2 linked regions of the Homo sapiens genome follow. Each later gene encodes a partner of the first gene's protein in a complex. Each region holds a gene or a part of one and is shown in the gene's direction. Other genes may lie near its edges.

Region 1 (7,657 bases):
TAATGGGGAAGTCTAATCACTTCTAAATTCCTCAGGTAAGGAGTTTTGCCTGCAGATAGTCTGCTTGATGGCCACCAGGTGATCTTTGCTCTCCTCATTTTCCCCCTGACAGATATCTTGGTCAAATATTTGACCCTTTCGAATCCCCCATGCTCCTCTGTACCTTCTGCCTATTATGGTTTCAAGAAAGGGGAAACGGCACAGTGAAGAGGGGTGTCAGGTCTGTCTGGCTACTTCTTGCTGAAAGGGAGCATTGAGGGGATAAGTCACATTTTTCCCTTTCTTGCTCTGTGTCATGAAGGGTTATGAAAAACTTACTGGGGACAGGAGACACCGGATTCCATCAAGAGGCCCCATATATGTGGAAGTTGCTGTTGCAGGCTGGTATTGGGATTACATAATCATCTGTAGGTGGAATCATTGTAATCTGGAAGATAGAAACTTAATGAGAGCATTAAAGAGGCAGGGACCAAATATTAGAGGAAGAATAATGAGGAATAAAGGTCCAAGGAATGGGAGAAACCAGGTGATTTTTGGGAACCAATTAGTAAGGATTTTGGCCCACTTTGGGTTACTTTGAGAAGGTGTGTGTAGCCATTTGGTTTGTTTGAAAATTTCTTGGACATCAGCTTCCACTTCTCCAGACACATTAATGTAGGTGCAACACATTTTGTTAATGACAGCACAGACTCCTCCTTATTCAGCTAGGAGGTAATCTGGAGCCCTTCTGATATCAACAACCATTCCTGCTAGTGAGGCTACAGACTTTTCTAGTGCTGATAGACTTGTGCTAGTTTTTGCGATTGTGAGGGAGGCAGCATGTTCACATAGTGTGATTTCATGATAAGTACAACCTCCCCAAGGGGTGAGAGTTGTGATGATTCCCACAACTCCAACAATAAGTCCTAGGGCCCTTTTTCATCTAGAATGGGATTCTAGATTGGAAGTTATGTTTAAGACAGTGATTTGGGCAGGAGCTATTGTACCCAGGGTACAATCATCATAACGAAGAGAATTATCAAGGTGGGATAGGGCCAAAGCTTGAAAAGGATTTAAATAATTAATAGCAGTGCCACAAAACCATAAGAGTTCAGGAGGGGCAGGTAATACATTTTTGAGGCTTCTTGCACTAAGGGCCACCGCTGCTAAGGCTCTTAAGCCATCCCTGGCATACTAGGTCTAAAGTTTTTTTTTAAATATGCTATAGGGGCCAGGCACAGTGGCTCACACCTGTAATGCCAGCACTTTGGGAGGCTGAGGCAGTCAGATCACGAGGTCAGGAGTTTGAGACCAGCCTGGCCAACATGGTGAAACCCTGACTCTACTAAAAATGCAAAAATTAGCTGGGCGCGGTGGTGCACACCTATAATCCCAGATACTTGGGAGGCTGAGGCAGGAGAATCACTTGAGCTTGGGAAGCAGAGGTTGCAGTGATCCAAGGTCATGCCATTGCACTCCAGCCTGAACAATAGAGTGAGACTCCATCTCAAAGAAAAAAAAATGCTATAGGGCACTTAGAGGGCCCCTCAATCTTGGGCTAAGACTCCCAAAGCTATTCCCTTTTGTTCATGTACATAGAAAAAGGCTTAGTCAGATCTGGTAGGGCTGAGGTCAGGGCTGAGATTAAAGCCTATTTTAAAGTGTTTAGAGCATGCTTCATCTCATTAGTCCAGTATAGAGACTGTTCCTGAGTTCCCTTGAGGGCTTCATATAAAGGTTTTGCTATTAACTCAAAGGAAGGAATCCATATTCTGCAAAACCCAGCCTTACCCAAAAATGACTGAAGCTGTTGTTTAGTTACCACAATTGTCACGTTTAAGATCTGTACAAGCACTACAAAGGCTTTTTCACTGGGAATTAAAATAAGACCCCAAAATTGAACCCTTTGTGTGGATATTTGTGCTTTAGAAGGAGATACTTTGTACCCACAATTAGCAAGTTTGTTGAATACTAATACTGTATTTTGGTCTGGAACAGCCTGGTTAGGACTACAGATTAGTAAGTCATCCACATACTGAAGTAGATTGCTATCTGGGAGAAGCTGCAGGGGCTCTTTTGGTGAAGTGTTAATACAGCTAGAAGGTGGGGCCTTAGCTGTAAATTAGCTTGTAATTTTGTAAATCACAACCTAATAGAACAGGGCTAAAAAGGAGTAAAGGAATAGCCTTTCATTTTACAAGGGAATGGCTGTGTGAAACAGCCTCATTGGGGTTTTCCATCAATATCCATGAGGAAAATGGAGGACTGGCACATTGGGCCATAGTAAATGTTTATAAAGCTGAATAACTGTCCCGTGTATCTATGAGTAACATTATCTGTTGTTCAGCCACAATCAGATTTGCCCTGGGATCATCCACAGAGATGGAAAAGACAGGGCCGTGGATGGCTTCAAGGCCCCATCTAGAGGATGGATGACTGACATTTCAGAGGCTTGATCATAATCCAGGAATAGAATTAGAGGTGTTTGCCCTTGCTCTCGCCCTCACCCTCACCCTCGTTCTGCAGGATCCCCTTGTCAGGTAGGTTGGTGAGACTGTGGCTGTCATAGCCTAGAAGGAAGAGGTGGCCCCCCCTTCATGAGGGAGGGACACTCATTCTTCCAATTTGCAGTGAGGACAGGGTCCCAGGGATGGCTTGCAACCTGGAGGTTTGGGACATTCTCAACTTCAGTGTCCTTAAAGGCTGCTTTTAATAAAGTACAAAAGGGAGTTTGTGGGCCTTGCTCTAATTTTTGGAGTTTTTGTCTGATGTCTGGGGAAGCCTGACTTATAAAATGTATGGCCAGAAGGGATTGGCCCTCAGGGCTTTCAGGATCTAAATCTGTATATTTATGCATGGCCTCCATTAGTCTAGCTTGGAAAAGGGAAGGGTCCTTGGTCCTGAGTGATCTCTCATAATTTAGAAAAATTAACAGGTTTTATTTCATTCCTTCCAACAAACATGTTATAATCTTCTCTTCCCCTGTCTCTGTTTGGGCTGGCATTGGCAGCGTGGTATTGCCAATTGGGTTCTGTGTTGGGGACAGCTTCTGCCCTGGCTCTATTATTAGGATTGCCAACATGAGTTTCGTCTGCCCAAACTCGAGCTAAAGACCGTGATTTTTTCTTCGTGGGAACAGCAAATAGTTAATACCACAAATGTGTCTTGCCAGGTTAAATCAAAGGCAATAAAGCCCGAAATTCTTGAATGAACTTAGAGGGATCCTGGCTAAATGAACCCAACTTGGATTGAATTTGCCAAAGTTCAGACAATGGAAAAGGGACATGAACTCAAATTGTTCCCAAATCTCCGTTTGCCACCTTGTGGAGAGGCATAACACTTGGGGGATTTTCTGAGGACTTTGTACTAGTGGCATATGTAACTCCTGTGCAAGTATGTGAGGGTAATAAAGTATCTGGATGGTAGGGGACAGGGGTTGATTGGGGCATGGAGCAGATGGCAAGGGGTGCACAATGAGTTTTGACATGCGTGCATTACGGAGATGCATAGAAATTCTAGTTACTTTTAAATTTGGAGGGAAGAAGTCTGGTACCAGATGCTGGCTTTAGGTAACAGGGAAGTCTAGTTACCTCTAAATTCCTCAGGTAAGGAGTTTCTGCCTAAGGATGGTCGGCTTCATGGCCACCAGGTGATCTTTGCTTTCAATTCTATTGGCTTGATTTCATCTGTGGCAGTTTCTGGGGGGAATCAAAATTATAGGAACAAAATAAAACTAACAGTAAAACTTTCATGCTGACTGGGGAATGCTTAACGTTTAAAAATAGGTGCTGAAGGGTCCAAAGCAAACAACACAAGCCGGAAAAGAAATGTTTAAAAGTTAGCTATATTTATACAAGGAAAACCAAAAGAAATACTTAAATGAGACTTTTAAAATTCGAGGCTCTCCACTGAGACTTGTTCCCTGGCGCCAGCTCCGGGAGTTCCGCAGAGCCTCGCCCCCTGCCAGGGCGCCCGGGGCGAAGGACCGCACGGCGCATGCGCGCCTCCTCCAGCAGTCCCTTTCCCCTTCTTCCCCAAGATCCAGCGCGTGCTCGGTTGCCCTTCTCCGTTCCTTGCAGGCCCTTGGGTCAGGACCCACCACCTGCCGGACCATCATTTTCCGAGTCCCTCCGGCCTAGTCGGAGTGCTCGCTCGCGCCTCCTAAAGCTCTCAGCCGAGCGCGCCGAGACCCCTCAGGGCGGCCGGTAAGAAGGCGGAGGGGCGGGGGCTCAAAGCGCGCGGCGAAGGTGCAGCAGTTACCAGGGTGCTGACGTCAGCTAGAGGCAGGGCACCGCGGAAGGTTGAATCCACGCCCTGGCTGTGCGCAGGCGCCGTAGGGGGAAGGCCTGGCACGCTCCAGCCAACCAGGGCGTCACCTGCAGCTCGTCCCCCTGCCCGGGCTTGCCTCGAGCGCCCTGCCGCCGCCGGAGCGGGGAGGGTGTTGGGGGCAGGTGGAGCCGGGAGGGCCCAGCTGAGAATTCAGGGTTGGGGGCTCAGAGGGCACTGCGGCTAGGAGCCCGTCAAAGCCTGTCGCCCACCGGGGCGAGGGCAGGTGGGAGCGCCTGGCCGTGCGTCGCGCGCTGGTTGGCCAGCTGACGCCCCAGTGCGCATGCGCGTCCGAACAGCCCTGCGGGCGGAGCGACTGTCCTCCCTTCTGGTGTACTGGGTGGGAGGTGGAACTAGTCGGACAAAGCCCTCGCGTCGGACCCTTGCCAGAACTGTAAGGAGCAAGAGGGGAGGGGCTCCGGTGGTGCATTCATGCTCCTCTAGGGGGGAAGCGGGGTCGGAGGGGAGTGCTCAGAGCCACCTTAGCGCAAAGTGCTAACTTTTGAATTGAGGCAGTGCCAGGGGACGCAGTATCCGCATCGCATCTACATTTTAACTCGCTGTGAAATGAGAACGCAAAGACGATTTAGGTTTTATTGTTTCCGACTTATATTTTTCCGAGGTCTTTGATTTACGGGAAATTGTTACGTACTAAATCTCATATAGCGAGATTTAGAAAAGGAAGCTACAGAATCTAGGCTAATGTATCTAATAGCATTTCCTGCTTTTGCTCTTTTTCTTTGCCTTTTTCCCCTACTCTAAGAAGTTCATATTCAACTGAAAAGCCATGAAAATTACCGCTTTTGTCCCTCCTTGATATAACAAACTGCTTTCAGAAACCGTACAAGATAGTCACTAAGGGAAGTCACAGTTCAAATGAGAGTGGCATGATATTAATTTTGTTAAAATAAATTACTTTCAAATAAAAGTTGTGCCAAATGGTCAAAGCTCAATCCTGAGAGCTCTATTTGGCACACACTCGGTGTTAGTTGAAAGTAAGCAAAACAAAACCGTTTTTCGTGTACTCTTCCATAATTTGGATTTTTCACTGATTTAGGTATCTTTCCACCAAATTTGGTTTGAAACTGCACAGATTTAATGCCTCACTTAGAACAGATTTTAGGTAAAATTAGAAATTTTCACTTTATGAAACAGAAACTAATATCACTGTTAAGTAGATTAAAGTAGTCATTTACAATGGTTTGTAAATAAATTTTATCCTTCCCGGTCCTCTGCCCTCTTCCAGGAAAGGCACCATTTCCTTAGAGAAGACCTTCCTGAGCTCTCCCCGCCCCATTCCAAGTGTTGCGTCTGGGAGTTTCTCATATTCTGTGCATGTTTGTATTATTGCATTTACTGCGTTGTTTTATACTTATCTGCTTGTGTCTGTTTTTACACTCCCCCCTCCCTCTAAAAGTCTTTTGAGTATTAGAATTGTCTTAATAATTTTCTAGTCCCAATGCTTTACGCAGGACCTGGCCCATAAGTGGTGATGAATGGGTGAGTTAAAGACTCGGTATGCCTCCCAAGTGTGATAAGACAGTGCAACCTCTTCAGTTATTTTATAGCATTTTCCAAGTGGAAGTATAGTGGGCTAAGTGCAGTATGGACAGGAACCACCTATGTAAGAATTTATCTGAAGACGAGAAGCCTGCGGTTGATGTGGATGTCCCAGACTTTTGGAGCTAGTGTCTGAATGAGAGCACCCAACTCTACTCTGAAGCAATGTGTCTTCAGTCAGCTGATAGTAATTTGATTTTCTGTGTAGCTAGTCCTGAAAGAGGAAGAACATTAGATCTGAATCTTCTAGTTGTCTTAGCAGTTATAATCTCAAAGTAAATTTACAGATTGACATTCCAGTTATCAGGCCTTCTAATTTAGCTTCCCCAAGGCCCACGTATTTCTGTCTTGAAGTGATAAAATTGGGTTCTGTTCTTACAAGGTTGAAGACTAACCCAAGATCTGGGCGTTGTGAAGCGGCAGGCAGCCATGCCTGCCAACCTGCTGGACATTGTCTCTACTTAGAATTTTGGTTTTTTTAATCTGAAAAGTACATAAACCATACAGGAAACAAAGAACTAATTCAAGCAAAAACTTGAAATCCTCCTTTGATTTTTAGCATAAATTGGGTAGCTAAAGATCCAAGTTTGTATTAAATAATTATTTTTAAAGAATTAAAGCTTAAACATTAACAGATGCCCCAGAATCCTCTTTGGTGATAGAATCAGGATTCCCTAATACAGTGGTTCTCAAACCTGAGTGTGCATCAGAATCCCTGACAGTGTGTTAAAACAGATTCCTCCATCCCACCCAGATTCTGATTCTGCAGGACTCGGATGGGACCTGATAATTTGCATTTCTCACGGATGCTGTTGCTGCTTTGAAAACCACTGCCCTAAGAGTTATTTCTTTCTCTCCTTCCTACCCTGTCCCTTTCTTCTTTTCCAAAACTGGATCCTCATCTGTCACTTAGTCGTCAGAGCCCATTCTTGAAGAGCTTACAGGAAATACTCAAAAGACTCATAGTACTCGGTTTTTCATTCTTATTCTTAAACAGAACGAGAAAATATATTTTTAATTTTTTCCAATGATTTGTATAGGAAGTGATCATCTTAGAGCAATAATTTTGTTGAATGGATAGCAGAATTATTAACTGAATATATTTTTATATATATAGGCATTTTCCTCTAGAAATATGAATTGGCTGCCATTGTGGGAGAGAGGAGAATTATTGGAAAAAGGAAAAGTCACATTCCCTCTCATTTCTCCCCTATTGCTCTCTCATTGTTTCTCCATGACCCAGAACACTGTCTTTAAAAAGTCAGTATTAATTCATAAAAAGACAATTCCCACAGCACAATATAACTTTATTATATTCACTTTAGGTTTTTATTTTGAAGAGAGAAATGCTACTTCCATCAAAACTTGTGTTTTTATTGGTTAGCAAGTGCCACCTTTGTCTTCAAATGGTAAAAGTAAACAACTAGCTATTTTTTAATTCTGATGAATTAAAAGTATTTTTCTAGAGAAAAATTTGTGAAATTATTCATCTGTACTTTTTGAATTGTATGTAGCCTTGGCAAAATTGCCTACTACCTTGTGTTTAAGACCTTCAGACATTGACTCCTTATTGTGATAATTCTGAGTTTTTCAACAAAGTTTTTCAAAATTTGTTTTTGAATAAAATGTTGTATTGAACTGCATGTTTGAGCAATATGTTATCTGACATTAGATGGAAAAAAATTATGCCATTTTTTAATACACTCTGACATAATAATAGTTGCAACTGTAATGAATTTTTTATTTACTAAATGTGGCTAAATCCCTTATGCATATTCTACTTAAGCTTCAC
Region 2 (7,030 bases), on another chromosome or scaffold:
ACTTTTCATACTATGTCTTTTAAATTCTCTATGTTAAATATATATGGATTTTGTTATCAGAATAGGAAAAAACAAAGGAAAAGAAAAAGTGTAAACAGCCATTTTGGGGTACGTACTCAGAGTAGCCAGATGGCAAGTGCATGCCATGCCCGGCCTCAGCCCCGCCCTCTGGTCCCTGTGCCGGCTGTGCCAGGTGCCCTCTTGCTAGGCTACATGTTCCTTGCAGATCGGCTTCACCACCGACCCTCGGATGGCCCGCTCCTCCCCCTACCCCACTGACGTGGCCCGAGTGGTGAATGCCCCCATTTTCCACGTGAACTCAGATGACCCCGAGGCTGTCATGTACGTGTGCAAAGTGGCGGCCGAGTGGAGGAGCACCTTCCACAAGGACGTGGTTGTCGATTTGGTGAGTGACTCTGGGGACAGCACGTCCTGGGCAGAGCATCTGACCCACCCCTCTTGCCCTCGGCACCCCTGTGTCCCAAGGAGAGGAGCTTGTCTAGATGAGTCACCTCAGGGCTCTCTACTGCCAGGCCTCATGCTGGTTCCTTTGAGCTCCAAATAGTTCAGGCCTGTAAGCACCAAGGAATGCTTCCCAGGCAGGAGCTGTGGTGGTGAGGAGGGCCACTCCTCATTGACAGAGCAGCTCTACTGTGTGAAGGAGAGATACACAGAATCCTAATTCTAGAGAAGGTAAACTCCAGGGCAGGCATGAGGAATGAAGAACGTGGCCATCACCTAGGAGAGATGGGGCAGGTGCCTGAACAGCACTTCTTCCCAAGGGGCCAGCCCTTGTCTCTGACATCCTCTCACTGCTCTGAGCAGGTGTGTTACCGGCGCAACGGCCACAACGAGATGGATGAGCCCATGTTCACGCAGCCGCTCATGTACAAGCAGATCCGCAAGCAGAAGCCTGTGTTACAGAAGTACGCTGAGCTGCTGGTGTCGCAGGGTGTGGTCAACCAGCCTGAGTATGAGGTACGTCCCTGCGGCTCTATCCCAGTGCGCCTTTCCAGGGCTGGCGATGACTAGAAAAGGTGGGCCACAGGGCCAGTTCTCACTTTTGCCAGTTATGAGGATACACGTGAGAGGATGTGAAATATTTACAACTACAGCATTTCAATGCATAACTTTTTGGAGAATCTGGGCCACTGAGATGCTTTATAAAGGAAGTGGGCCTTAAACAGTGTTTTGGGGAAGGGAAGGGGATGTTTTCAGGTTGAGGTAGTAGCAGCCCAGTAGGTTTTCTCAGATTTCACAAATTGTGCATGGTTGAGAGGTGGGTGGTGGATCCAGCTTGGTAAGGGGCCTGTTGTAATCTGGATAGTAAGTGCTGGTTGGTTGTGAGTGGGAAGGCCAAGCAGCTGCCCTAGAGAGGGAGAGGGTGGGTGTGAGGAGCTATATCTGAGCATGGGAACAGGACAGATCCCAGATCAGAACAACCTGATAGCCTGTAGCCTATGCTGGAGACAGAGCTTTGTGAACCAGTTTTTTTTTTGTTTTGTTTTGTTTTTTGAGACGGAGTCTAGCTCTGTCACCCAGGCTGGAGTGCCGTGGCATGATCTTAGCTCACTGCAACCTCCACCTCCTTACTTCAAGCAGTTTTCATGTCTCAGCGTCCCAAGTACCTGGGATTACAGGTGCGAGCCACCACGCCTAGCTAATTTTTGTATTTTTAGTAGAAACAGGGTTTCCCCGTGTTGGCCAGGCTGGTCTTGAACTCCTGACCTCAAGTGATCTGCCTGTCTTGGCCTCCCAAAGTGCTGGGATTATAGGCATGAGCCACTGCGCCTGGCCTGGACCAGTTCTTAAGAAAAAATGTGGTGGGCTGGGCGTGGTGGCTCATGCCTGTAATTGCAGCACTTTGGGAGACTGAGGCAGGTGGATCATGAGGTCAAGAGATCGAGACCATCCTGGCCAACATGGTGAAACCCCGTCTACTAAAAATACAAAAATTTGCTGGGCGTGGTGGCACGCACTTGTAGTCCCAGCTACTCAGGTGGCTGAGGCAGGAGAATCGCTTGAACCCGGGAGGCGGAAGTTGCAGTGAGGCAAGATCGCGCCATTGCACTCCAGCCTGGTGACAGAGCATGACTCCGTCTCAAAAAAAAAAAAAAAAAGTGGTGAAGGGTTAGGGGTTCAAACTCCGAGCAGAATCTCTACCCAGCAAATGTGAGGAAGAAACTTTTGGGAGTGAAAAGAATAAAATCTTAGAAAGGTGTTATGCCTATTGAGAAGGAGCAGGCCCAGAGGCTGAGATGTTTTGCATCCACGAAGTGTGGGACTATGGGTGGGCATGCACGGGAGTTGTGCCAGGGGTATGGTTGGGCTTGCGTGGTGGCTGTCAGAAAGTGTGGGGGTACAGGTGGGCGTGTGCAGTAGTCATGCCCTGTGCCAGTCACGCTGTGTTGTGCCCAACCCTCCAGGAGGAAATTTCCAAGTATGATAAGATCTGTGAGGAAGCTTTTGCCAGATCTAAAGATGAGAAGATCTTGCACATTAAGCACTGGCTGGACTCTCCCTGGCCTGGTGAGTGAAGAAACAGTGCCACAAATAAGCTCCTTTGAGGATCTGATGTAACGAGGCATCCTCTTCCCAGAAAAAATTCATGCTTTCCACTTTGTACCCACAATGCACAGTTGTATGCACCATTTCAGCAAAGCCCCCTGCAGACCCTGGACCCAGACCCCTGCATTAATGTTTTCTGGGGAACACAGTGTGAGCTACATTGTCTCTCACCCTGCTTCTCCCCAAAATCACGTGTCTGCCATTTTGTGGTCCCTGGAAAAGTAGAGCAGATGTCATGCCTCAGTTGTTCTTCTTCTCCTAGGCTTCTTCACCCTGGACGGGCAGCCCAGGAGCATGTCCTGCCCCTCCACGGGTCTGACGGAGGATATTCTGACACACATCGGGAATGTGGCTAGTTCTGTGCCTGTGGAAAACTTTACTATTCATGGAGGTAACACGCTCTGTGCTGACCTGTGGAAATGTTGGGGCCCAGGCCAGGGGCGACGACTGTCTAGGACTGTGACCTTGGCCCCCACCCATCATGTGTCCTACAGAGACTCCCTTCCTGCCCTGCTCAAGGCCTCTGGGGTGGTTGGATGGAGCCACCTCTCCCACTCCCTGCCCTTAGCACGATCCTACACTTCCTCAGTGGTAAAGGAGAGACTGAGGTCACAGCTTTTCCAGCAAGTCAGGAACCCAGAAACTACGAGTAAAGAAGGCTCCGCTCTTGCCATGGGCACGCTGAGAAGCAAGGCAGGCATGTGCAGGCAGGGCCTGCAGCAGCTGGTGAGAGCTGTGTCTCTGCAGGGCTGAGCCGGATCTTGAAGACTCGTGGGGAAATGGTGAAGAACCGGACTGTGGACTGGGCTCTAGCGGAGTACATGGCGTTTGGCTCGCTCCTGAAGGAGGGCATCCACATTCGGCTGAGCGGCCAGGACGTGGAGCGGGGCACATTCAGGTAACGTTCTGGGCAGTTTTGTTTGCCCTCCAAAGAGTAGAAGATGGAAAGGGAGGGGTTCTGGTGTTTCTTTTCCGGAAGACGGTTAGAAACCGGAAGAGTCACATTGCTCTCAGGCTGAAAACCTCTGTCCCTCATTTGCTATGGGTGCTTCTGTTAAGACCTGGGTGGGGCCGACCCTGCAGCTGCCTGGCCAGAAGTCCAGGTCACAGAGCATGGCATCTGCTGGTGCTTCGTGCGGGTCCCCAGCGTATTTGCTTGTCAAGTCAGAGCTCCTAATTATTACCTCTGTTGTCCTGTCTCAGCCACCGCCACCATGTGCTCCATGACCAGAATGTGGACAAGAGAACCTGCATCCCCATGAACCATCTCTGGCCCAATCAGGCCCCCTATACTGTGTGCAACAGCTCACTGTCTGAGTACGGCGTGCTGGGTGAGTGCCTGGAGCCACACCACCAGGGCCTGTCACCCACCCACCCCCGCTGGGCCTACTGGCTGGTGTCCTGGACATGGTTTTCTCCTTCCTTTGTCCCTTGTAGGCTTTGAGCTGGGCTTCGCCATGGCCAGTCCTAATGCCCTGGTCCTCTGGGAAGCCCAATTTGGTGACTTCCACAACACGGCCCAGTGTATCATCGACCAGTTCATCTGCCCGGGACAAGCCAAGTGGGTGCGGCAGAATGGCATCGTGTTGCTGCTGCCCCATGGCATGGAGGGCATGGTGAGCCTCTGGCCCTTCCCTGCCAGACCTAGGACTTGGGAAGGGCCTGTGTAGGACCCTGACCCCAAAGACTGGCACGAGAGCCAGTGGCTCACACCAGCCTCCTAAGGACTCTGCTGGTGCTTCCCATCCATCTCAGATGGGATGTCACTTCAGAAAGCCAGAGTAGCCCATCTGGATGTGGCTAGCATGCCCCGTCCCTGCTGGTGCAGACTCCCTAGATGCACAGGCGTCCAAGTGTGGAAATGATGAGCCAAGTGCTTTGCTGGTGGGAGGGGGAAGGAACTGAACCCTGCCATCAAGAAAAAAGATAACCAGAAATGAGCTAGTTGGTTGAGGAGGAACAGCAGATGCGGCAAATGTCAGTACGCAAGAGCTCTTAAACTGTAACTTGCGTGTGTGGTTCCAGGGTCCAGAACATTCCTCCGCCCGCCCAGAGCGGTTCTTGCAGATGTGCAACGATGACCCAGATGTCCTGCCAGTGAGTAATACAGGCCCTGTCAGCCCAGCCATTCTCGGGGTGTCTGGTGGGAAACCTGGGGAAGAGCAATCTATCTGGTCATCCTGAAGTGGCAGACCGTGCCTCTGTCCCTTTCTCCATCCTGGGGAGCTCACGTGAGTGGACAGGTGTGGCCCCATGCTTCTGGGCGCCCTGGGATGAGAGACTTCCTCAGAGCACAGAGGAAGGTGCAGGGACTGCCTCCATTGGCTTCCTGCTGTTGCTGCAAGCACAGAAACGCCATGTGAGCTCCTCAGCAAGGGCTCCTGCGGGATGCTTCCAGACCCTGATTCAGGTCTGGAAGCCCTGAGGAGGAGAGAACTTTGGGGCGATTCCAGTGAAACTTTAAGAACTCAAAGAACCAGCCTGGGCAACATGGTGAGACCCCGTCTCTACAAAAATTTTAAAAAGTAGCTGGGCGTGATGGTGCACGCCTGCAGTCCCAGCTACTTGGGAGGCTGAGGTGGGAGGATTGCTTGAGCTTGGGAGGTCAAGGCTGCAGTGAGCCAAGATCGTGCCACTGCACTCCAACCTGGGTGACAGAGCAATACCCTGTCTTAAAAAAAAAAAAAAAAAGAACTGTGCTGGGTGTGGTGGCTCAAGCCTGAAATCCCAGCACTTTGGGAGGCCCAGGCAGGCGGATCATGAGGTCAGGAGTTTGAGACCAGCCTGGCCAATATGGTGAAACCCTGTCTTTACTAAAAATACAAAAACTAGCTGGGCATGGTGGCGCCCACCTGTAATCCCAGCTAGTCTGAGGCTGAGGCAGGAGAATTGCTTAAACCCGGGAAGCAGAGGTTGCAGTGAGCCAAGATTGTGCCGCTGCACTCCAGCCTGGGCAGCTCCGTCTCACAAAAAAAGAACTGGCCAGGCGCAGTGGCTCACGCCTGTAAGCTCAACACTTTGGAGGCCCAGGCAGGTGGATCACGAGGCCAGGAGTTTGAGACCACCCTGGCCAATATAGTGAAACCCCGTCTCTACTAAAAATACAAAAATTATTCAGGCGTGGTGGCGGGCACCTGTAGTCCCAACTACTCAGGAGGCTGAGGCAGAGAATCGCTTGAACCCGGGAGGTGGAGGTTGCAGTGAGCCAAGATTGCGCCACTGCACTCCAGCCTAGGCGACAGAGGGAGACTCCTGTCTCAAAAAAAAAAAAAAAAAAAAAAAACTCAAAGAAAATGATTAGGTGTCAGTGTCTAAGGAAAATTGGTTTTAGGTAGAACTTGTGTCTCTTAAAGTGGTATTTGTTTCATGCTGGGCAATAGCTTTCAGAGAAATAGTATGGATTGAGTGGGACTGAGGCTCTCCTCCAGGGTATGAGGCTGGCCGAAGGAGCTTGCTGGACTCACTTGTTAGTGTCAGCTTATGTCTCCTGGGGAGTCAGTGTGTTAGGCCATTCTTGTGTTGCTATAAAGAAAAACCTGAGACTGGGTAATTTATAAAGAAAAGTTTAATTGGCTCACAGTTCTGTAGGCTGTACAGGAAGCATGATGCTGGCATCTGCTCAGCTTCTGGGGAGGCCTCAGGAAGCTTACAATCATGACAGAAGATGAAGTGGGAGAGCAGGCATGTCACATGGCCAGAGCAGGAGTAAGAGAGTGGGGGAGAGGGGCCACACACTTTCAACAACCAGATCTCGTGTGAACTCAGAGTGAGAGCTCACTCATCACCAAGGGGATGGCCCAAGCTCTAATCCTAACACCTCCCACCAGGCCCCACCTCCAGCAGTGGGAGATTACAATTCAACATGAGATTTGGGCAGGGACAAATATCCAAACTAGATCACCTGAGGGCCCCCACATGCCCCAGAAGACTCAGTGCTGTGTCCTGGCCTCTGGCCATTTCCTTCCCTGCTGCAGGACCTTAAAGAAGCCAACTTCGACATCAATCAGCTATATGACTGCAATTGGGTTGTTGTCAACTGCTCCACTCCTGGCAACTTCTTCCACGTGCTACGACGCCAGATCCTGCTGCCATTCCGGAAGCCGGTCAGTGGCAGGGCCTCCCTTGCTCAAACGAGGCCTGGCCCTGCCCTGTTGGTGCAGGGAAGGGCTCCTCAGAGAGCCTCTTGCTTGGGGTTAGCTAGGTGGGCACCTGCAGGGGTAGTGTGGACAGGACATGGTGTCAGGGAGCCTCGCCCTTCCTCCTCACTGCTGCCATGAGGGAACTGCGTGTTCTGTGTGTCCTCTTCCCCGACTGGGCCCCTGCATACTGCTGAGCACCACATGCGGAGCAATCACATAGGCTGCAGGCCCCAGCCCGGTGGGGAGGACGGATGTTTGAACAGGTGGTCATAGGGGGTGTGCTGAGCTCTGGAAGAGAGGTGAGCCCTGGCAGAGGCCAAGGG

What was found.
Region 2: the proteins of TCAIM (region 1) and OGDH are in contact, whole or in part, in a cryo-EM structure (PDB 8I0K), measured with the Homo sapiens proteins. Residues at the interface, in NP_001269842.1 of Homo sapiens: Glu214, Gln234, Arg235, Ser236, Trp237, Gly238, His241, Ser244, His247, Ser248, Arg251, Gln255, Asp272, Arg273, Thr286, Met287, Asp288, Val289, His290, His291, Glu331, Leu332, Gln333, Pro334, Val335, Arg375, Tyr376, Glu441, Ser443, His473; in NP_001425937.1 of Homo sapiens: Gly301, Tyr304, Arg323, Tyr354, Arg356, Ile358, Arg364, Asn365, Lys387, Glu391, Tyr394, Cys395, Gly396, Thr398, Glu399, Lys401, Lys402, Lys561, Met602, Pro605, Glu667, Gly668, Ile669, Asn709, Met734, Ala735, Ser736, Pro737, Asn738, Gln772.

The regions. Positions count from the first base shown.
Region 1 is NC_000003.12:44,334,136-44,341,792, forward strand, and holds the start of TCAIM (T-cell activation inhibitor, mitochondrial), read left to right. Parts: upstream 1-4,630; 5' UTR 4,631-4,699; intron 4,700-7,657. UniProt on the Homo sapiens protein: May regulate T-cell apoptosis.
Region 2 is NC_000007.14:44,693,599-44,700,628, forward strand, and holds part of OGDH (2-oxoglutarate dehydrogenase complex component E1 isoform 1 precursor), read left to right. Parts: intron 1-226; coding exon 227-406; intron 407-825; coding exon 826-978; intron 979-2,426; coding exon 2,427-2,529; intron 2,530-2,830; coding exon 2,831-2,959; intron 2,960-3,315; coding exon 3,316-3,466; intron 3,467-3,771; coding exon 3,772-3,899; intron 3,900-4,005; coding exon 4,006-4,184; intron 4,185-4,593; coding exon 4,594-4,665; intron 4,666-6,542; coding exon 6,543-6,671; intron 6,672-7,030. UniProt on the Homo sapiens protein: 2-oxoglutarate dehydrogenase (E1o) component of the 2-oxoglutarate dehydrogenase complex (OGDHC). Participates in the first step, rate limiting for the overall conversion of 2-oxoglutarate to succinyl-CoA and CO(2) catalyzed by the whole OGDHC.